Linked DNA regions of Homo sapiens: region 1 is linked to region 2. A link means that fine-mapping ties the variant in region 2 to the expression of a gene that starts in the linked region. Tissue or cell type: blood mononuclear cells. Region 2 holds a variant in brackets; the other region holds the start of a gene. All regions are shown on one strand. Distances are between the middles of the regions.

The links. PIP is the estimated chance that this variant, and not a neighbour inherited with it, causes the effect. A credible set is the group of variants that fine-mapping cannot tell apart.
Region 1: SLC25A24 starts here. The variant in region 2 is the best candidate, but not a certain one, in a credible set for the expression of SLC25A24 in blood mononuclear cells (TOPMed, PIP 0.53).

The regions. Positions count from the first base shown.
Region 1 is chr1:108,195,304-108,207,116 of GRCh38, reverse strand. It overlaps SLC25A24 (solute carrier family 25 member 24), which reads left to right and starts at 6,774. Exons shown (of 10, transcript NM_013386.5): 1 at 6,774-7,161. The coding sequence starts at 6,979. RefSeq lists an enhancer at 6,556-6,850 and a silencer at 6,651-6,990.
Region 2 is chr1:108,125,326-108,136,721 of GRCh38, reverse strand. It overlaps SLC25A24 (solute carrier family 25 member 24), which reads left to right. Exons shown (of 10, transcript NM_013386.5): 10 at 1-2,679. The coding sequence ends at 69. Among named protein-coding and RNA genes, the nearest start is that of LINC02785, 67 kb to the right of the region's middle. RefSeq lists a silencer at 10,853-10,992. The variant C/T (reference allele first, on the strand shown) is at 3,838.

The DNA of each region.
Region 1 (11,813 bases), 70 kb before region 2:
ATATGCACTGAACACAGAAGCACCCAGATTCATAAAGCAACTTCTTAGAGACCTACAAAAAGACTCAGACTCCCACACAATAATAGTGGGAGACTTTAACATCCCACTGTTAATACTAGATTGATCAATGAGACCGAAAATTAACAAGGATATTTAGGACTTGATCTCAGCTCTGGACCAAGCAGACCTAATAAACATCTACGGAACTCTCCACCCCAAATCAACAGAATATACATTCTTCTCAGCACCACATAGCACTTATTCTAAAATTGGCCACACAATTGGAAGTAAAAGACTCCTCGCCAAATGCAAAAGAACGAAAATCATAAAAAACAGTCTCTCAGACCACAGTGCAAATTGAAACTCAGGATTAAGAAACTCATTCAAAACCTTACAACTACATGGAAACTGACCAACCTGCTCCTGAATGACTATTGGGTAAATAACAAAATTGAGGTAGAAATAAATAACACTTTGAAACCAATGGGAACAAAGACACAACATACCAGAATATCTGGGACACAGCTAAAGCAGTGTGTAGAGGGAAATTTAAAGCACTAAATGCCCCCATGAGAAAGTGGGAAAGATCTAAAATCAACACCCTAACTTCACAATTAAAAAAACCAGAGAAGCAACAGCAAAAAAATTCAAACGCTAACAGAAGACAAGAAATAACTAAGATCAGAGCAGGACTGAAGGAGATAGAGACACGAAAAACCCTTAAAAAAATCAATGAATCCAGGAGCTGGTTTTTTGAGAAGATTAACAAAATAGACTGCTAGCCAGACTAAAAAAGAAGAAAAGAGAGAAGGATCAAATAGACACAATAAAAATGATAAAGGGGACATTACCACTGATCCCACAGAAATACAAACTACCTTAAGAGAATACTATAAACACCTCTATGCAAATAAACTAGAAAATCTAGAAGAAATGGGTAAATTCCTGGACACATACTCTCTCCCAAGACTAAGCCAGGAAGAAGTCGATTCCCTGAATACTACCAATAACAAGTTCTGAAATTGAGGCAATAATTAATAGCCTACAAACTAAAAAAAAAAAATAGCACAGAACCAGATGGATTCACAGCCAAACTCTACCAGAGGTAGAAGGAGGAACTGGTACCATTCCTTCAGAAACTATTCCAAACAATGGAAAAAAAGAGACTCTTCTCTAACTCATTTTATGAGGCCAGCATCATACTGATACCAAAACCTGGCAGAGACACAACACAGAAAGAAAATTTCAGGTCAATATCCCTGATGAACTTCGATGAAAAAATCCTCAATAAAATATTGGCAAACTGAATCCAGCAGCAAATCAAAAAGCTTATCCACCATGATCAAGTTGGCTTCATCCCTGGGATGCAAGGCTGGTTCCACATACAGAAATCAATAAACGTAATTCATCACATAAACAGAACCAATGACAAAAGCCACATGATTATTTCAATAGATGCAGAAAAGGCCTTTGATAAAATTCAACAGCCGATTCATGCTAAAAACTCTCAATAAACTAGGTACTGATGAAACGTATCTCAAAATAATAAGAGCTATTTATGAGAAACCCACAGCCAATATCATACTGAATGGGCAAAAGCTGAAAGCATTCCCTTTGACAACTGGCACAAGACAAGGATGCCCTTTCTCACCACTCCTATTCAACATAGTATTGGAAGTTCTGGCCAGGGCAATCAGGCAAAAGAAAGAAATAAAGGATATTCAAATAGGAAGAGGGGAAGTCAAATTATCTCTGTTTGCAGATGACATGATTGTATATTTAGAAAACCCCATTGTCTCAGCCCAAAAACTCCTTAAGCTGATAAGCAACTTCAAGCAAAGTCTCAGGGTACAAAATCAATGTGCAAAAATCACTAGCATTTCTATACACCAATAAGAAACAGAGAGACAAATCATGAGTGAACTCCCATTCACAACTGCTACCAACAGAATAAAAAACCTAGGAATACAACTTACAAGGGATGTGAAAGATATCTTCAAGGAGAATTACACCAATGCCAAGGAAATAAGAGACAACACAAACAAATGGAAAAACATTCCATGCTCATGGATAGGAAGAATCAATATCATGAAAATGGCCATACTGCCCAAAGTAATTTATAGATTCAATGCTAATCCCATCAAGCTACCATTGACTTTCTTCACAGAATTAGAAAAAACTATTTTAAATTTGATATGGAACCAAAAAAGAGCCCGTATAGCCAAGAAAATCTTAAGTAAAAAGAGAAAAGCTGGAGGCATCACTTTACCTGACTTTTAACTACACTACAAGGCTACAGTAACCAAAACAGCATGGCACTGGTACCAAAACAGAGATATAGACCAATGGAACAGAACAGAGTCCACAGAAATAATGCCACACATCTACAACCATCTGAGCTTTGACAAGCCTGATAAAAACAAGCAATGGGGAAAGGATTCCCCATTTAATAGATGGTGTTGGGAAAACTGGCTAGCCATATGCAGAAAACTGAAACAGGACCCCTTCCTTACACCTTATACAAAAATTAATTCAAGATGGATTAAAGACTTAAACATAAGACCTAAAACCATAAAAACCCTAGAAGAAAACCTAGGCAATACCATTCAGGACATAGGCATGGGCAAAGGCTTCATGACTAAAACACCAAAAGCAATTGTGACACAAGCCAAAATTGACAAATGGGATCTAATTAAACTAAAGAGCTTCTGCACAGAAAAAGAAACTATCATCAGAGTGACCAGGCAACATACAGAATGGGAGAAAATTTTTACAATCTATCCATCTGACAAAGGGCTAATATCCAGAATCTACAAGGAACTTAAACAAATCTACAAGAAAAAAACAAACAACCCCATCAAAAACTGGGCAAAGGATATGAATAGATACTTCTCAAAAGAAGACATTTATGCAACCAAGAAACATACGAAGAAAATCTCATCATCACTGTTCATTAGAGAAATGCAAATCAAAACCACAATGAGATACCATCTCACACCACTCAGATTGGTGAACATTAAAAAGTCAGGAAACAACAGATGCTGGAGAGGATGTGGAGAAATAGGAACGCTTTTACACTGGTGGTGGGAATGTAAATTAGTTCAACCGTTGTGGAAGACAGTGTGGTGATTCCTCAAGGATCTAGAACCAGAAATACCATTTGACCCAGCAATCCCATTACTGGGTGTATATATCCAAAGGATTATAAATCATTCACATGCACGTTTATTGCACCACTATTCACAACAGCAAAGACTTGGACCCAACCCAAATGCCCATCAGTGATAGAATGGATAAAGAAAATGTGGCACATATATACCATGGAATAGTATGCAGCCATAAAAAAGGATGAGTTCATGTCCTTTGTAGTGACATGGATGATGCTGAAAGCCATCATTCTCAGCAAACTAACACAGGAACAGAAAACCAAACACCGCATGTTCTCAGTCATAAGTGGGAGTTGAACAATGAGAACACATGGACACAGGGAGGAGAACATCACATGCCGGGGCCTGTTGGGGGTGGGGAGGGGAGGGAGTGGGGAGGGGAGGGATAGCATTAGGAGACATACCTAATGTAGGTGATGGGTTGATGGGTGCAGCAAACCACCATGGCACATTTATACCTATGTAACAAACCTGCACATTCTGCACATGTATCCCAGAACTTAAAGTACAATGAAAAAAAATTATCCTTCCAGTAATGGTTATGGCTTTACACTGAACCAATCAAATTCTCTTACAGAGCCTAAGCTGTGATTACTCAAATTTGAGGGAGCAATGACCAGGATCTTTTTTTCCTTTCTGAATATTCTTGAAGGATTTTGAAATAGAATTGTTCCTTGTGGAGAGGCAGATTCTTTGGTCTTATTAGCACTACACAATAAGTAAGTGATTCAGTGGATAGAAAGAAGAAATGTGTTTATCAACTAAAACTAGCCAAATCCAGAATGATTATGAAAAGATTCCAAAGTAGGTGCTGAAAGAGGTCTTCAAGGACTGAAACTGGTCAAGTCTGAAGGTTATTCCAGTGGAAAATGGTAGTACATTAGAAGGCCAGAAGTTGGGGACAATAGAAGTAGCTAAATTGGGCTGAACCCTAGACTTCTGTTCTGACCAAGGAAATGAATTAAGGAAGTGTGAATTCTGGGTTTCTACTACTGCCCTCTAGGAACCACTGGTCTTTGGGAATTGCCAGTAGAATTAAGCAGGGGTGCCTTCTTTCGTCCAGATGTGTAAATGTCCATGTAAAGGTTTCTTCTCTTATGCAGGAAGTTGCTAGTGTTAATTACACCTTTTATCTTCATGGTGTTATCTCGATTCCTTGCAGACATAGTGTCGTAAAATACAGTAAAAATGCAATACTAGAAAATTGAAATTAAAAAGACAAGCTCTGAGTTTTATTATTAGATATAACAAAATTACTTTATCAAATTGCTATAAAGTTTCTAAATCCTTCCTCTCAATGTCTGACTCATTGCAGACAGGTAACAGGTTGCACTTCGAGTGGTTTGCTTCATACTAGCTGTGCTTTTCAAACTTTATGAAATGCTCATCCAGGGTTCTTGTATAAGTGCAATTCTTACTTAGTGGGCTTGGGCAGGCCTGAGATTATTTCTGACAAGCTCCCAAGTGACACTGATGCTGCTGGTCTGTGGCCCACACTTCATAAACGCTTTGATTTTCACAGTAACACTGATGTGACACCAATGCTGCTGGTGTGTGGCCCATACTTCATAACTATTCATAAACTGTTTTGATGTTCACACTGATCTTTTGAGAATTTTTATTCCATTTTACTCATGCTTAAGTCAGATTTATTGATATCCCAGAGTAAATTAACCCATGTTAGTGTGCAGTTCTGCTGGCACACACATGCAGTTGTGTAACCACTACCACCAAAAGCAAGATGTAAAATAGCTCCATCACCCCCACAAGCCTTCTGATGCTCTTTTGTCATCAATTCCCTTCCCGCTAGTCACAACTGGTAACTACTGATTTGTTTTCTGTCCCTATAGTTTTGCCTTTTCCAGAATGTCATTGTTGACAGGTATCAGTAATTCATTCCTTTTTATTGCTAATTACTATCTCACTGTATGAATGCAACACAGGTTGTTTACCAGTTCACCCGTTAAAGAACATTTTGTTTCTGCGCTTGACAGTTATGAATAGAACTGCTATAAACCCTCAAGTAAAAGTTTTGGTGTGAAGATAATTTTCTCAGCAAAAACGCTGACAGGTAATTTTTCTAAGTATTACTTTTTTAAAAAAGTAAAATAGCCTGTAGCCCCAGCTACTCAGGAGGCTGAGGCAGGAGAATAGCTTGAACCCAGGAGGCGGAGGTTGCAGTGAGTTGAGATTGTGCCACTGCATTCCAGCCTGGGCGACAGAGCTAGACTGTCTCAAAGAAAAAAAAAAAAAAAAAAGAAATAAATAAAAAGTAAAATGAAAGCATGTAAGTGTAAGATGACTAGTTCAAGCAACCTCTCTTCAAGTACAGAGTATTCAGAGTAGAGATTAAAAGAGGTTTTCAAGGACAGAGAAAATTTGAAGTTTGAAGGCAGTTCCAAAGGAAGGCAATGATTCTTAATAAGACTGGAAGTTGGAAGTAATATAAAAAGATAAATCAGTTTCAAGATGATTTTACTAAGCAGGCAGCCCTTAATTTACAAATTCTAGATTCATACATATCTTAAACATACAAAATGATATGAGGAGAGGTAAGTTCAGGGTCTGAGTTCCTGGCTGTTGTTGGAACTGATTTCTGTGTAGTGATTCAGAAGATGTGAGACACCCTAATTTACAAGTACAGAGGTATCTTCTTTTCTGCAAACAGCAGTACAACAATAGTTCCTCTTACGCAGCTGTGAATGAACAGGATTATTACAATTAATGATATCTCATTTGATTGGCGCCTTAGAGAATTAAGACCTTTCACACCTAATATACAACTTTGTTGTGAAGGCAGATATTTATATTCTCATTTTACTGATGAGAGACTACCCGGAGACGCTATGTCACACCTGAAGGATTAGGTACTTTCTCTGTTAAGTCCAATGTTCCTTCCGTTATTCCATGCTAGGCAGTAATAAGTTCTGTCTTGCCTGAGTAATAAGCTCCAAACCTCGGAACTGCACCCATCTTGAGAAGGAGGAGGGCGCTGTGGTTTTTTCTGATAAGTGCAGCTGGCAGACACTCTATACGCTTAATCACGGGCAAATCCTAGCTAAGCTGCCTACCAAACTAGTCCTTCTTTTCCCCGTTGCCCACGCAGATGGCTGTTGATCTTTTCTGCAACAAATCCAGGAGTTTCTCCTTTTTGTTTTATAATTGCTCCAATAGATGCTTTAGGATTTAACTCTCTGCTTTTTAAAGCAGAATCGCCATCCCAGGTGTGCAACCACGAAAAAATTAGACATCCGTGAGAGACAATGCCCTCCATGGCCCAGTTTCCAGGCAGAGAGAAGCAGCTCTGGGCTGACCGCCAAGGCTCCGGCCCGAGAGGGTCTTTAAGTGGAGTAACCAGTCTTCAAGACCCCGCTCCCAAGCCACCGACGCGCTGACGCTGCAGCCCTGGACCTGCTGGGGGCCTCTTCCTCGGACCCGCATGCTGACAGCGGGACTGGCAACTGGGCAGAGGTCGACCCCGGGTCCGCACAGCACCTCCCGAGACCCAGCTCCCAGCTCCCTCACTTCCGGCTCTCTGGAGGCGGGCCCGGCCAGTGCCGCCGAGGCCAGCGCGGCGAGCTCCTCCCCAGCAGCGGCGGGACGGCCACACCCTGCGCTCCGCGCGGGCTCGGGTGGGGTCTCCGCTCCTGCGCCCTGCGCCCTGCGCGCCGCAGCCGCAACCCCGACGGCGCCCCAAACGCTGTTGCGCCGCGCGCCCCGCCCAGCCCGGCCTCGCGCTGGTCCCGGTCTCGCCCCGCAGCCCTCGATCTCCCGTGACTTCCTCGGCCAGGCCGCCTGCGCCTCTGGGACCATGTTGCGCTGGCTGCGGGACTTCGTGCTGCCCACCGCGGCCTGCCAGGACGCGGAGCAGCCGACGCGCTACGAGACCCTCTTCCAGGCACTGGACCGCAATGGGGACGGAGTGGTGGACATCGGCGAGCTGCAGGAGGGGCTCAGGAACCTGGGCATCCCTCTGGGCCAGGACGCCGAGGAGGTGGGTCGCCGCCGGGGCGCCGCCTGAGCGTAGGGAGGGCTGCGGGCGCTGGGGACACTGCGAGGACCGAGGAGGGCGGCGGCTTGAGGCGTTGCCAGGAGAGGAAGGAGGAACTGTGGCGCCCAGCGCTCCGGTGGCTTCAGAAACTCGGGCGTGGGGCCGCGACCGGCGACCCCGGTAACAGAAGTGGGTCATAATACGAAAGTCTACTGGTATTTGTCCAGATAAAATGAGTGTTGTGGACACTCTGGCCCACGGGCACTGTTAAATTTTTAAGACACTTTTGTCCTGAATCCATCCCAGGTTCTTTGTTTTCTGTTTTAATACCTTGCAGACATGTAATCCGTTTTAGCTGTCAGACTTCAGTGGGTCCCAAGTTTTGTATAAAGGCGCACACATTCGATCTCTTTCGAAGCTGCTTTGTTACAGCAGCTATGTGTATTGTCTACTGTTTGAAAACTGTTTGAAAACCAATCGCGTGTTTCCCCCACTTCCTGTTGAGAAGGAATGGCGGCATTCCATTGTTTAAGACATTCCTAGGTTAATGCCCTAGGTACATAAATTGATCTGAAGGGTTGACTTGACCTGCGACTGAGCAATTTCATTTTCTCTGAGTCATCTTAACTGTGCCCCTGAACTTCTGCCCCTTTAGTAGGGTGGAGATATGTGGAACTTCTCCAACCCTGTTGAAGCGTTCCCTGACACTGGCATTCTCTTATCCAAAGAGGGAAAGTGATTAGGTTACTATGAGGGCCAACAACTGTTATATAGTTATATTTCACTTCTCTTTTAATGTCTTTGGTAGTTATAGGCCTCTTCAGTTTACTGTTTCTTCTAGAGTCAGATTTAGTAAGTTACAATTTTTTTTGAAACTGCCTGTTCTGTCCAAGGTTCATAATACTCACCGATGATTTTATAACACTTCTGACTGAATCTGTAGGTAGGTTCTCTATTTCATTCCTCATATCTATCCTTTTCTCCCCTTCAATCTTGCCAAAGTTTTGTGTATTTTATTCATACTTTGAAGGAACCAACTTTTGGTACTTTGTGCTGATTGTCCCAGAAATGGCCCAGTTGGAGTTCCCCACCATGTCCAATCATTGGCTGGAAGCAGCCCAGGAAAGGGACGACCTTGCTGCAGTGCATCAGCAGATGCCAGGGTTAGAGGCTAGAGAGTGGAAGTCAACTGTGTTCCTCACAGTAGGTGCCTTTGAAGGGAGATCTCAGTGGTACAACTCCATGGTCCCTACAATATACAAAAGCTCTTTGGAGTGCTCAATGATTTTTAAGATTGTAAAGGGATCCTGAGATCAAAAAGCTTGAGAATTGCTGCTGTATCACCATTTTTACGTAACTGCATCATATTCTGTTATATGTTTGTGTCATAGTATATGTTACCAATTCTTTTTAAATCACCTTTTACTTTATTGATAGTTTAAAAACGATTGTAAGTGAAATTGCAATGGATGTCCTTTGTATTCATTTTCTCATTCTGGTCCAGTTACTTTCGTAAGATAAATTTTGAGGAGTGGACATTGCTGAGTCTGAAGGTAACACACATTTTAAACTGGGATACGTATTGCCTTTCGGAAACCTTAGACCCATTTTCACTCTTTTGACTGACAGTGCTTGCTTCTCCACATCCTCGCTCATTCAGGGTATCAGTCTTTGTAAAGTCTCCTATTCTGCAGGTGAAATTCCTTTTCATTTCCTGTCTTAGTCCATTTAGTGTTGCTATAGTGGAATATCTGAGACAGGGTAATTTATAAAGAAAAGACATTTATTTAGCTCACAGTTCCGCAGGCTGGGAAGTTTAAGAAGCGTGGTGCTGGCATCTGCTGGACTCCTGGGGAGGGCTTTCCTGCTGTGTCACAACATGGTGGAAAGTCAAAGTGGAAGTGGACATGTGTGAAGAAGCAAAATCCGAGGGGTGTCCTGGCTTTATAGCAACCCAGCCTCGAGGGAACTGATCCATTACTGAGGGAACTAATTCAGTCTCATGAGAGAGAGAACTCACTCACTACTGCAAGAATGACACCAAGCCATTCATGAGGGATCTGCCTCCGTAACCCTGACACCTCCTGCTAGGTCCCTCCTCCCAACACGGCCACATCAGGGATCAGACTTCAACATGAGTTTTTGTGGGGACAAACAAAACGTAGCACTTGCTTTGCCTTTTGGTTCTATTCACATCCTCCACAGGATTGCATTATGCCTACCCATTTGGTGAGGGCAGTCTTCTTTAATTGGTTTACTGATTCAAATGCTACCCTCCTCCAGAGACATCCTCACAGACACACCCAGAAATCATGTTTTACCAGTTATCTGGGCATCCCTTAGTCCAGACGAGTTGATACATAAAATTAACCATCACACATGGGATAGAATTAGGATTACACAGTCAACCTTTATGGGAGAAAATTTCAGAGGCATGTCAGGGGTTTATGTAATGTCAAGGAGTGAGGACATTGGCTACTTGAGCATAGAAATGAGAACTGTGGGGTGACTCTTCGGTGGAAAGTTTCAAGGTAGTAGTTTGTATCTAAGCCAAATACTCAGCTTGAAGCAAAATCTCTATAAATTTTCATCTGATTTGATCTCATCTCCGTGTTTCCAAGCATTTGTAATGAATTGAGCATTTAGAAGAGAACAAATTTCTGTTTAAGTTTCTTTAGATTTTAGATGGAAAGAATGTAGAAATAAGAGTAGAATGTAGAAATAGGTATAAGGAATATAATAGCTAACCATTACTAAGTGTTCCAGAATTATCCAGGGAAGAGAAAAGAATTCAAGGCAAGTCCTGAGACAAAATTAAGAACCAATTGGAAGTGAAAGCGCTACATTTTTTTTTCTGGTATGACCTTTCTTTTCTGTATGTTCCAAATCTCCTCACTATGAAATTAGTGAAAAATTAAAGTTAAAAATTAGAGAAAATTCACATTAAGTTCTCCTAGGACTCAGTAGTATAAGGGTATAGACTGAGAGTAGAATGTAGTGTGAGAACAAGGAGATACAGTATTTAACCATTACTAATTCTCTTATACTTGTCTAGTAATCCTATTTCCTTTTAAAAGTCTTCAGTTATTTTCTCTTTACGCACCTCCTTCTCCCTCTTGTCTTCCTCCTTCTACCCCCATCTTCTTTCTTCCTGTGGAGCCTTCATGAATGGGATTAGTGCTTGTATAAAAGTGACCTGGAAGACCTTCCTTGCCCCTTCCACCATGTGAGGACACAGTGAGAAAACAGTGGTCCATGGAACCGGAAAGTGGGTCCTCACTAGACAGTAAATCTCCTAGCACTTCGATCTAGGACTTCCAGTGTCTGGAACTGCAAGAAATCAATGCTTATTTTTTAAGTAAGCCAATAGTATTTTTGTCATAGCAGCCCAGTTGGACTAGGACAATTATCAAGAGCAAGAAGGGAAGCAGCAAGCTACAAGAGAGTTCCGTCCTTGGTGTAAATTGACCGTGTAATCCTTGTCAAGTTTGAGCCTTACTGGAGCTTTACTTTCTTATTCTTAAAATGCAGATATCTTGCCTGCATCCTGGACAGAGCTTTTAACAAGGTCATATGTTGCAGAATATGAAAGTTCATGTTAAAAAACCCTTTAAAATGTGGTATCCCATTTACTAGCTGGTGAACTTCTTGAGGAACCTCTGTGCCCATGGGTATGAAGTGTATGCTGAATGATCACCCAATGTTAGAGGAGTGGGTGGACTGGTAACCTGATTTAAGGGCCATTCTAACTCTTACATTCTATGATTTTTTTAATTCTGTCTTTAAGTTTTTACATTTACAATCACAGAAAAAATAGTCACATAGAAGAATAGTAGCTTAGCAAATGTTTATTGCATTGAGTGGAATCAGGATTTCACTCCATTAAGTAATTCCTCTGTTAACAAAGAGGGTTCATTTCATTTTTATTTCATTAATATTGCTTTTTTTTTTTTTTTCTGGAGACAGAATCTTGCTCTATCACCAAGGCTGGAGTGCAGTGGTGCGATCTCGGCTCACTGCAGCCTCTGCTTCCTGGATTCAAGCGATTCTTGTGCCTCAGCCTCCCAAGCAGCTGAGATTACAGGCACATGCCACCACACCTGGTTAACTTTTGTATTTTCTAGTAGAGATGGGATTTTGCCATTTTGGTCAGGCTGGTCTTGAATTCCTGGCCTCTAGTGATCTGCCTGCCTCTGCCTCTGAAAGTGCTAAGATTACAGGCATGAGCTACCATGGCCAGCCCATTTCCTTAATATTTTAATTGTCAGACATGTTATGGTTTCTGGCACAATATTAAGAAGACATGATATGAAATCACAGGGTGAATTTTAGGGCATCACAACAGAAAGATTATGGTATAAGAAAAACAATGGAATTCCAACTACATTTCTGTCAAATGTTCTAAAATATATAAAATCTGTATCTTTTGTGTTCTCTCCTGATTTATATTCTAAATTTGATGTTATCCTTCTCTGCAGAAATAAAGTGTCTGAAAGAATGAAAAAAATGGAAGAATTCTTTAGTAAGGTATAAAATACCCTTTCTATCTTTGTAGCATTCTAAGCCTTTTGTCACCTTTCCAAACTCCCAACATGCCATATTCCCTGACTAGGCCACAGCCATGTACATTGATCCCTTTATTTTCTTCTCTCTGC
Region 2 (11,396 bases):
CCTGCTGTAGGCATCAGTTATGTGGTTTATGAAAATATGAAGCAAACTTTAGGAGTAACCCAGAAATGATGTTGCATTTTTTGCTTTAGCCTGATAATTGAAACTTTCAACAATCTCTGGAGTGACTTTTTCTCCTCGAATTGAAACAAGTCTATGGCAAAAGAAGCTGCATTTTTTTCACAAAAGGGAAGATGGTAACAATGGTCACTTCAAACTTTTGGGCTAAATTATATGTACACAGAAATGTTCAAAATCATAGTTTTAATGTGTTTTGAAAAGGCCACACAATTATACTTTATCTTTTCTTAATAATCCTGCAAATCTCTGCCCTGAATCCGAAATCTGAAAATGTACTGGCTTGAACAAAATTTGTTTTGTGTGTTAGAGTTATAAATCATTAATCTTTATTTCGGGTGGTTTACGTTTATGCCAGTTCCTTTATATTTAAATTTCTTGTTTTATATATTTTGAATGTCTTTATAGATTTCTTTAAATTTCCTTATAGAACCATTAATAGAAAATCATTACATTTAAAATATACCTTACAGCAAAAGCATCCAAATAAGTATAGGGTTTATGTCCTTATTTTTCTTTCAGCTGAATACGAATGAACACAGTGGTGGAATTTCTGAAGGGAAGTGATGAAATTATATTTATTTCAGTGGGCACTTTTCCATTTTACCACTGTACCATTATTTGGTTCCTGGAGTTATACACTAATTTTCAGTATATTACTGTTAAATTACCAACACAAGGCAATTTATTTGAAAGATTCCGTTTATCCTGCCATTGCTTTGAAAAGCAGCAGGAAACGAAATCCTTTGACTTGTATCAGCTTCTGCAGAGCATCTTTGTTTTCCTTTGTCCTTTGTTTCCTACCTTTTGAATCAGATTCCGTTTTAGTCAGGAAGACTTCTTGGGACCATTCTTAGTAACCTGAAATTTCTTTTTTAATTGCATGAAGTGGATTGATCATGAGCAAATGATGTGCTTATTTCTCCCTCACTGTTGAATATCTTTGAACTTGCTGTTTTCAATATGGGCAGCACAAAGGTGAGAGATACATATTAATAGTAGTATGTATTACTCTTATACATTAGATACCTATATTTAAATGAAAGGCCCAATTTGTAAACATATACATTCATATTCTCTCTTGCCCCAAGTTTTAGGAACATGTTAGGATATAGGAGACTTAATTTATAATAATGAGAGCATTTTTTTATTTTACTAAAGCCATTTTTATAGTCAACTATCTTTTCTTATTTGTGTGATTAGAACTTAGAAAAATATTTACTAGTTGAAGTTATTATCAGTTTTTAATTTAGTTCTTAAACTCATTTCACTTCTAATAATTTCTGTTATAAATTTCCAGCATTTTAATGAAAATCTAATGATGTAATAGGCATTTTCTTTATTTGAACCTACCTCTTTTATTTTCTGAACCAAAGAGAAAGATGGACTGGTGTTTGTGAAACATTTTTAAAAATGTAGTTTCATTTATATTAGTTATGTTTGATAAATGTCTCAGTATTTTTATAATATGATAAGCCTGGGATTCTACTTTTAGGGTTATTTGTACTTTTGAGTAATATATAAAGTGACAATATTAAGGTACATGATCAGCTCTTTCTATTTTTACTCGTAAAAATTATGGAAATGAATAATTTTGCTAACAACTTTGAAATTTCAAACTTCTGGAAAATATGAAAATATTCATTGTTCATTATGAATTTAAATTGTAAGGTATGAATGTGATTTGTCTGTACATCTTGTATCTTTTCCAAAAAATGATTCTGTATCTTTTGGAAAAAAGCCGAGAGTTGAAGATAGTATATTTCTGGTAGTACTGAATATTTACTTACAGTTTCTATCAAAAATATATATTTGTTTCTAAAATTACTTGTTTTCCAGTTTTTATTTTTTTTAGAGAAAATTCTTAAGTCTCAGTTTCCTAATTGAAAAAAAAAAATTATAAATAAAGCAAAAATTGTATCCTACAGCTTAGCTAGCTTAGATGTTTGGCACCAGTTTGAATCATGCTTTTTACAGCTGGCTCCATGTAGTCTTTCCAAACATTTTGGCCTTTCCTGAGCAGCCCTTGTAGATATTGTCTGTATGATGCATTTTGACACAAGGTGATATTTTTTGTGATATCAAAATTCCACATTTACCCATTAGAGTTACAGCCCTGGGGTTCACAGTACCAAGGGGGACCCAGAGCCTCAGGATTGGCCAGGCTCATTTTGCCGTGGAGTATCAGTTTGTCTTGAAATTGTGGGAAAAAATTCTAAGTTGAATTCACTGGTAAGTAATTTTTTAAAATTTCATAATGCAGATTACATCCAAAATTTGATTTAAAAATTAAAACATAAGACTGCAGAGAAATTCTGCATTTCAACTCCAATACTATCCAGACTTCAGAAATAACTTATCAGTTATTTCTGTAAGCTTCTTGCTTACCTGGATACCTGACAGGTGAGATGGCTGTAGCAGACACTGGCAGTTCCCTGCCCACACACCTGTCCCTGTCCACAGCTGCACAAGGCAGCTCTGTGTGCAATTGCCAGCATCTGCTCCTCTGTTCTCAGGGAATCTTTGTTAGAAAAATGCTGCCATATTTGTTTCTCACCTATTAGTCTTGTCTCCCAGTCAAGAGAATAAATTTATGCAAGCAGAGATTGTACTTTACAGTATTTTGTCTTTGAGCTTGGCATTATGTTGCATTTGTAAAAATGTGGCATGGCTTCCTCATCCCCCAATAGGAACTTTGCCAGCCCTTTTGTTCTCATGGAACTTCCTTTTTTGAAAAGAGCACCAAAGGAGTAAAAATACTGTGGAGGGAGCAACCCTCCTTTGCCATATGCTCTCATTGGGAGACATGTGGAGCAGTCTGAAGTCATTTAGGCCACTCTCTGGGAGAGCACATCCTATGATGTTCTCCCAGCCTAGCCCCTTCCACTGTGCTCAAGTCCAAGCTGACCAGCTTTCTGACCACAGTGTAAACAAAGATGATTGTCAGTGGGCCCCAGAATCCTATACCCAGACACTAAGCCACAGCCACTAACCCCAGGCCACTTCAGCATTTATTCCACCAGCATTCACTCACTCATTTGTTCTTGCAGTGTGCATTTAGTAGGCACCTGTTATGGCTTGGCTTTATCCCCATCCAAATCCCATCTTGAATTGTAACTCCCACAATTCCCACATGTCATGGAAGGAACTGGTGGGAGGTGAATGAATTATGGGGGTGGGTCTTTCCTGCACTCTTCTCATGATAGTGAATGAGTCTCATGAGATCTGATGGTTTTAAAAACAGGAGTTTCCCTGCACAAACTCTCTCTCTCTTTGCCTGCTGCCATCCATGTAAGATGTGACTTGCTCCTCCTTGCCTTCTGCCATGATTATGAGGCTTCTTTTGTAAATTGTGCAGTCTTGGATATGTCTTTATCAGCAATGTGAAAATGGACTAATACAGTAAATTGGTACCCGTAAAGTGGGGCGTTGCTGAAAAGATACCTGAAAATGTGGAAGTGACTTTGGAACTGGGTAACAGGCAGAGATTGGAACAGATTGGAGGGCTCAGAAGAAGGCAAGAAAACGTGAGAAAGTTCTGAACTTCCTAGAGAGTTGTTGAATGGCTTAGCCCAAAATGCTGATAGCAATGTGGACAATAAAATCCAGGCTGAGGTGATTTAGGATGGAGATGAGGACCTTGTTAGGAATGGAGCAAAGTTGACTCTTGTTATGTTTTAGCAAAGAGACTGGGGGCGTTTTGCCCCTGCCCTAGAGATTTGTGGATCTTTGAACTTGAGAGAGATAATTTAGGGTATCTGG[C/T]AAAAGAAATTTCTAAGCAGCAAAGCCTTCAAGAGGTGACTTGGGTACTGTTAAAGGCATTCAGTTTTATAAGGGAAGCACAGCATAAAAGTTTGGAAAATTTGCAGCCTGACTATGCAACAGAAAGGAAAAATCCATTTTCTGGGGAGAAATTCAACCTGGCTGTAGAAATTTGCTTAAGTAGCAAGGAGCTGTTAATGTTAATCCCCAAGACCGTGGAGAAAATGTCTCCAGGCCATGTCAGAGACTTTATGGCAGCCCCTCCCATCACAGGCCCAGAGGCCCAGGAGGAAAAAGTGGTTTTGTGGGCCAGGCCCAGGGTCCCCATGCTGTGTGCAGCCTAGGGACTTGGTGCCCTGTGTCCCAGCCGTGGCTGAAAAGAGTCAATGTACAGCTCAGGCTGTGGCTTCAGAGGGTGGAATCCCAAGCCTTGGCAGCTTCCATGTGGTGTTGAGCCTGTGGGTGTAAAGAGGTCAAGCACTGAGGTTTGGGAACCTTCACCTAGATTTCAGAAGATGTATGGAAACGCCTGGATGCCCAGGCAACAGTTTGCTGCAGGGGCTGGGCCCTCATGGAGAACCTCTGCTAGGGCAGTGCAGAAGGGAAACGTGGGGTTGGAGCCCCTATACAGTGTCCCTACTAGGACACTGCGCAGTGGAGCTGTGAGAAGAGGGCCACCATCCTCCAGACCCCAGAATGGTAGATCCACAGACGGCTTGTACTGTGTGCCTGGAAAAGCTGCAGACACTCAACACGAGCCCATGAAAGCAGCCGGAAGAAAAGCTGTACCCTGCAAAGCCACAGGGGCAGAGCTGCCCAAGATCAAGGGAACCCACCTCTTGCATCAGCATGACCTGGATGTGAGACCTGGAGTCAAAGGAAATCATTTTGGAACTGTAAAATTTGACTGCCCTGCTGGATTTCGGACTTGCATGGGCCCTGTAACCCCTTTGTTTTGGCCAATTTCTCCCACTGGGAATGGCTGTATTTACCCAATAACTGTATCCCCACTGTATCTAGGAAGTAACTGCTTGCTTTTGATTTTACAGGCTCATAGGTGGAAGGGACTTCCTTTGTCTCAGATGAGACTTTGGACTGTGGACTTTTGGGGTTAATGATGAAATGAGTTAAGACTTTGGGGAACTGGTGGAGGCATGATTGGTTTTGAAATGTGAGGACATGAGATTTGGAGGGCCAGGGGTGGAATGATATGGTTTGGCTGTGTCCCCACCAAAATCTCAACTGGAATTATATCTCCCAGAATTCCCACATGTTGTGGGAGGTACCCAGGGGGAGATAATTGAATCATGGAGGCAGGTCTTTCCCATGCTTTTCTTGTGATAGTGAATAAGTCTCACAAGATCTGATGGGTTTATCAGGGGTTTCCACTTTTGATTCTTCCTCATTTTATCTTGCCGCTGCCATGTAAGAAGTGCCTTTTGCCTCCCTCCATGATTTTGAGGCCTCCCCTGCCATGTGGAACTGTAAGTCCATTGAAACCTCTTTTTCTTCCCAGTCTCAGGTATGTCTTTATCAGCAGTGTGAAAATGGACTAATACAGCAGCCAATGTGGGCTGAGGTCACAACATTGAACAAAAGACTCAGTACTTCTTGTCTAGTGGGGAGAGACAGATGATAAACTATTAAGTAAAACATGTAGTGTGTCAGATGGTGCTAAGTGCAGAAGGGAGAGCTGGGGCTGTGGCCAGGGCTGCAGTTGTACAGAGATTGATAGAGAAGGCCTTATTGAGGAGGTGCTGTTTGAAGGTGGTGCAGGAATGCTCTATACTGAGTCTGGAAAGAGCATCCAGGCAGCAGAGGGAAGCAGATGCAGTGGCCACAGGAGGGAGGAACCTGCAGGAGGCCCGTGTGGCTGCAGGAGAGGAAGCCCAGGGAGGCAGCAATCCAGGAAGCAGAGGGGACTCTGAGGGAGCCACATCATCATTCATTTCTCCATTTCTTGCTTTCTAGTTCTGCAATAGCAGCAGTTTCTTGGGGGTATTCCCTAAATAAGATTCAAATGTCTCTCCTCGGGGGGTGGGGGACACTTGGGGTAGTATCACTGGAAATGATGGAAAATACCTCAGTTTCTGGGAACTGTTATGTCCATCACAGACAGAATAGCTTACTGCTACCTGGACACGTGGGCCCATTCTCCAGGTAGCATGTCTATTGGCTTCTCTGTGCCTCTCCTCCTCCAGGGAGAATTGTAATTTTTAAAAAGAGAATTAACTTAGAAACCTTAAAATCTTTCTAGATATTTTCTGAGAATTACAGAGGATTTTAATCTTAGCAAACTAACAAGGCTCCCACTGTCCTCACTTCCTTCTCTGATCACTTTGTATCTGCCCAGGGTTGGTTGGTTTGTTTATTTGTTTTTAATTTACACAAGTTTGACAATGTTGGAAACAATCCTTTTATTTGATTTTTTGTTTTGTGTTCATTGATAATGTCCTGTTTTAAATTCACTTCCACAAAGTCAAGATAACCATAACAAACAAGTGATTTGTATTTTGTTACTCCAGAAAGAGAGGCTGGTTTGTCCAGGGATTTTAAAGCTTTCTAAAGTACGCTTCGAACCTAAGCTTATTATAGACTCCCAGTTTTCCCTAGTCAGCATGAGTTTACACTCATCTGATTACACCGATTCTACCACACAATCTCAGCCACGGGCTCAGGATGAAGTGGCCTGAATCCCAGCACCTGTAATCAGTGCCTTCTGTAGCTATGTGTCACCCAGCCAGTCTTTGCTGTACTGCAGGGGGTCCCCACATCAATCTTACTGCAGCAAATGGGATGGTAAAAATGTGGTTTTTTCTTTTTTAATTTAAATCAACTTAAGTCCAGCTCCTTAACCACTCAGTGTTGTGCCAATGATCTAGGATGTTGGCCCCTTTGGACACTGGCCATGGTCTACACCACTCACAGCTGAGGCGCCCTTTGTTCTAGCCTGCATGGTCCCTTGGTTCCAGCAGTTGTGCCATGCTTGGGATGGGAGGAGTTGGGAAGACATGGAGTGTCTGTGTCTGGGGTCCGGCCTTTCCATTCTGAAATGGTGATGAGTAGAATGTGGATCTCCCTTAGCCTTGGGACCCACTAACCTTTGTCTTCTTCCAAACCTCCGACCCACCTCTTTTTCTCTTTGCTCTTAAAATTATCCCTCTCCTCTTCCCTCTGAGGCCCCTGTCATCCTCTCTGCAGGTAGCTTCAGTGTTTGCAAAAGACAGAAAAGACTTTGATTGAAAGTGACTTCTGATTTCTACTTTAAAAAATCACCAAGGGAAGGAAATGCTAAAGGCCTGACTCCTGCTCTGAAATGAGAAAAAAGGGAAAATATAGGGACATAAATACAAGTTAGTATTTTACTCAGTTATCTTGCTATAGCCTCTCAAATTGCCTCCTGTCTCCTGGTACTCTGTCTCAGGAGTAAGCCTTGTGCCTTACAGCAGTAGGCTCTGCACATAAAAGGAGATGGCTGTTTTGTTTGTTTTAACATAAACAGATTGTTATACCTATTGAATCTCCAAGTTCCCACAACTATATTGATATGTGGCAATGCAGTTTCACAACCAGACAGTTCAATAAACGGTGTCCAGGTTGAAGGGTCAACTATGTACTTAAAATTCAACCCTTTTCAATGGCCTGGGGAGGAGATGGGAAGGATGGGAGAGGGTACAATTACTTGGAATGCTGAAAAGAATGATAAGGTGAGACTCCCTCTCTGCAAGGAGTCTAGAGCTGTTTCTAAATCTGTTTTGGTTTTGGATGTGTTGGTGAATATGAGTGCAAGCTCTCAGAAGACATGGCTGATAAAGTTGCAAGTGTAGAATTAGAGGTGAAATTGATGAGTTGGGTGCTTGAGTTTCTAAGTAGAAGAATCTGGTGGAATTCTACCAGAAGATGAGGAACATGGTTTAAAGCTCATCCTTTAGTGATCTTTGTTTTTGTCCTGATTTTATTCCCTTCCTGCTTTACTCTTTGTAAAGATGTTCCCCCTTAAGATATAGGGAAATGTTCTATAAGGTAATAAAGCTATATTAAGGCGAACAAAAAGTAAATGAATGGAGACTTTTGCTGGAGTTTGAAAAGTTAGCTATTTTATATGTATGTTTTCTTTGTCTAGTAAAAATGTACGACTATTGTTTTATGGAATTCCAATCAGAGACTGTGGGAGACTTTCTTTACTTTGCTAAGCCTTAATAATTCACTTACTCTTTTTATAAGGCAGTGAGAAACATTCATTGGTCAAATGGTTTGTTCAACAATGTTCTTTCTATTTTATTCACATAGCATTAACTAATAATCTTTCTATTTTATTCATGGTACCATTGACATCATCAACACTTTATTGAGTGTAACTGGATTTATTATAATTAATCACAATAAACTGCACATGTTTAAATTATATAATTTCATAAGCTTTGACATATGTACATACCCATGAACAAAAGATGGTGAACATACCAGTTTCTGAGTACATCAAGAAACCACTGATTGCTTTCTTTCTTTTTTTTTTTTGAGACGGAATCTCGCCCTGTTGCCCAGGCTGGAGTGCAGTGGTGTGATCTCGGCTCACTGCAACCTCAGCCTCCTGGGTTCAAGTGATTCTTCTGTCTCAGCCTCCTGAGTAGCTGGGACTACAGGAGCGTGCCACCATGCCTGGCTAATTTTTGTATTTTTGGTAGAGACAGGGTTTCACCATATTGGCCAGGCTGCTCTCGAACTCCTGACCTCGTGATCTGTCCACCTCGGCCTCCCAAAGTGCTGGGATTACAGGCGTGAGCCACCGCACCCAGCCTGATTTCTTTCTTTCTATCACTGTAGATTCATTTGTATTTCATAGAATTTTATGTAAATGTCTAGCTTTTCACTCTGCAAAGTCAATCAGAGTTATCTGTGTTGTTGCATGTCTCAATAATTTATTCTTTGTTTTGCAGAGTAGTATTCCCTTGTAGGAACATTCCACAGTATGAGACAAGGCCCTGCAGAGAAACTCTACATAGAAAGGGTCTCCATGGGGCTGGGCACTGTGGCTCACACCTGTAATCCCAGCACTTTGGGAGGCTGAGGTGGGCGGATCACAAGGTCAGGAGATGGAGACCATCCTGGCCAACATGGTGAAACCCCATCTCTAATAAAAACACAAAAATTAGCTGGGTGTGGTGGCACATGCCTGGAATCCCAGCTACTTGGGAGGCTGAGGCACGAGAGTCGCTTGAACCCAGGAGGTGGAGGTTGCAGTGAGCTGAGATTGCGCCACTGCATGCCAGCCTGGGTGACAGAGTGAGACTCCACTTAAAAAAAATTAAAAAAAAAAAAATAATAATAATAAAAAAAGAAAGAGTCTCCATGGAACACTTGATCCCTAATTGGCAGAAGAGGTCAAGGAAAAACACTAATGTGAAACAAGGGCAAAAGGTGCAAGAAAATTAAAAGGCAGTTAATAACTTCAGGAAAAATTAAAAAGCTCTAATATAAACGAAATGTGGCTGGGTGTGGCGGCTCATGCCTATATAATCCCAGCACTTTGAGAAGCTGAAGTGGGCAGATCGCTTGAGGCTAGGAGTTTGAGACCAGCCTTGGTAACGTAGCAAAACCCCATCTGTACGAAAAATATAAAAATTAGCTGGGCATGGTGGCCTGTGCTTGTAGTCCCAGCTATTGAGGGGAGAGCAGCTAAGGTGGGAGGATTGCTTGAGCCTGGGAGGTCAGGCTGCAGTGAGCTGTGATTGTGCCACTGCACTCCAGCCTGGGCAACAGAGCGAGACCCTGTCTCAAAAAAAAAAAAAAAGAAATGTAATTATAGTGAACACTAGCTCGGCAGTGAAAAATACTGCAAAGTCACATCATCAATGTGCTTTCAAAATCAAACTGTAGGCCTAAATATAGCTATAGAAGAATGTAAACAAGGAAGCAAATGTAATCAGAAGCTGAGCAGTAGGAGAGAGGAGGTGGGGTGAAAAGGGAAGGATGAGGAAGGTGGGGGTGTGCAAGGCTCTTGCTTACCTGGGTACCCGACAGGTGAGATGGCTGTAGCAGACACTGGCAGTTCCCTGCCCACACACCTGGCCCTGACCACGGCTGCACAAGGCAGCTCTGTGTGCAATTGCCAGCATCTGCTTTGGTGTTGCTCTTGGTGCTGGAGCTTACTTGCTGCCCATGTGACAGGAGCAGCTCTAAACCAGTGGTCGTGAGCTCTGTTTCGCACTGGCTCCCATTTCTACACTGGGTCTGGTGCAGGTGCCTATGGTGGCAGCTGGTGTGATGATTTGCCCTTTACTGATGGCCTTCTCCTCATCTTACTTTCCCATCCTGTCCTTGAATCATCCATTTCAGGATCTGCCTCTGAAAGAACCCAAACTAAGGCAGTCAATCCACCACAGACAGACAAGGAAATAGAAGCAGAGCGTTTTATTTAGAGATTATGGAGGAAAATACGAAAAGAAGCAACTAACAGAACTGCAGGTCATTACCTCTAGGGACCAAGACTAGAGGTGGGAAGGGGCGGAAGAGGAGACCATGCTTTTAAATATATGCATGGCATGTGCTACTTTAATATAATTAAAAACAATCACTTAAAGCAAATTGGAACAGTGTAACAAATGAAATCAAATGAAATCAAAAGGAGAGAGCACAAATATATCTGAGTAACTTGGTCTGTCCCCCAGCCCCCTTAATGTTGTTACCTGAATATGTCAATTGTTGTCAAAAGACAAGCATAAACTGAAATCGATTATTGTATGGATCTGAACCGATGGAAAATATTCTCTGTACAGCAATTTTAAAAGTATAATGGTAATCACTGTGTTAGGGATTAAGTATACTTCCCACCCTGTGTTTTTGCCATTGTATAGGAAAAATCATGCAGAATACATTGATAATCACTGTAGAAATGAGATGAGATTTATTAACTAAAACACTTAGCACTTCACCTGGCACTACTTTATGAAGAAGCACTTTGTATAGGGCACTATGTGTAGTTTATATATATAAAGAAACATTTGTGTATTGGGTTTGAATGTTACTTGTTGTTGTTGAATATTCTTCTGCTAGTCCACCCTGTCCCTGATGGAAGCTATGCCCCCGGATCAGAAACGCTTGATGCTCAAGCGGTCCTGGGAAACCACTATTGCAAGTAACTGTCAGTGCCCTCTACTTTCCACTAGATGGCAGACTTCCCCCAGCTCTGTGGACGGCAGATACCCAGGAGAGGAGGACAGAGCTTCAGATCTTTGCTTTCTCCCTTTCCCTTGACCTGGAAAATCACTGGGCTGCCTCTGAGGCCAGATTTAGATTTCCTGCACAAGCCATCATTACCTTGTTTAGAGGAGTGAAATTAGGGTCGACCTGTCCTGTCATTCCAGGACAGAAGGTGACAAATAAGGTCCTTTATGTGTAGCACTGAGGAGAAGGGCTTGTTCTTAATTTTTAAGATATTTTCCAAAAATAGAAAAATTCTGTTTTACAAGTCAAATAAGAAATGATTGAAAAACAAGTATCACTGTTCATATACAGAGTCGTAGGTAAATGTTCAGATACAAAAATTGTGACCATAGAGC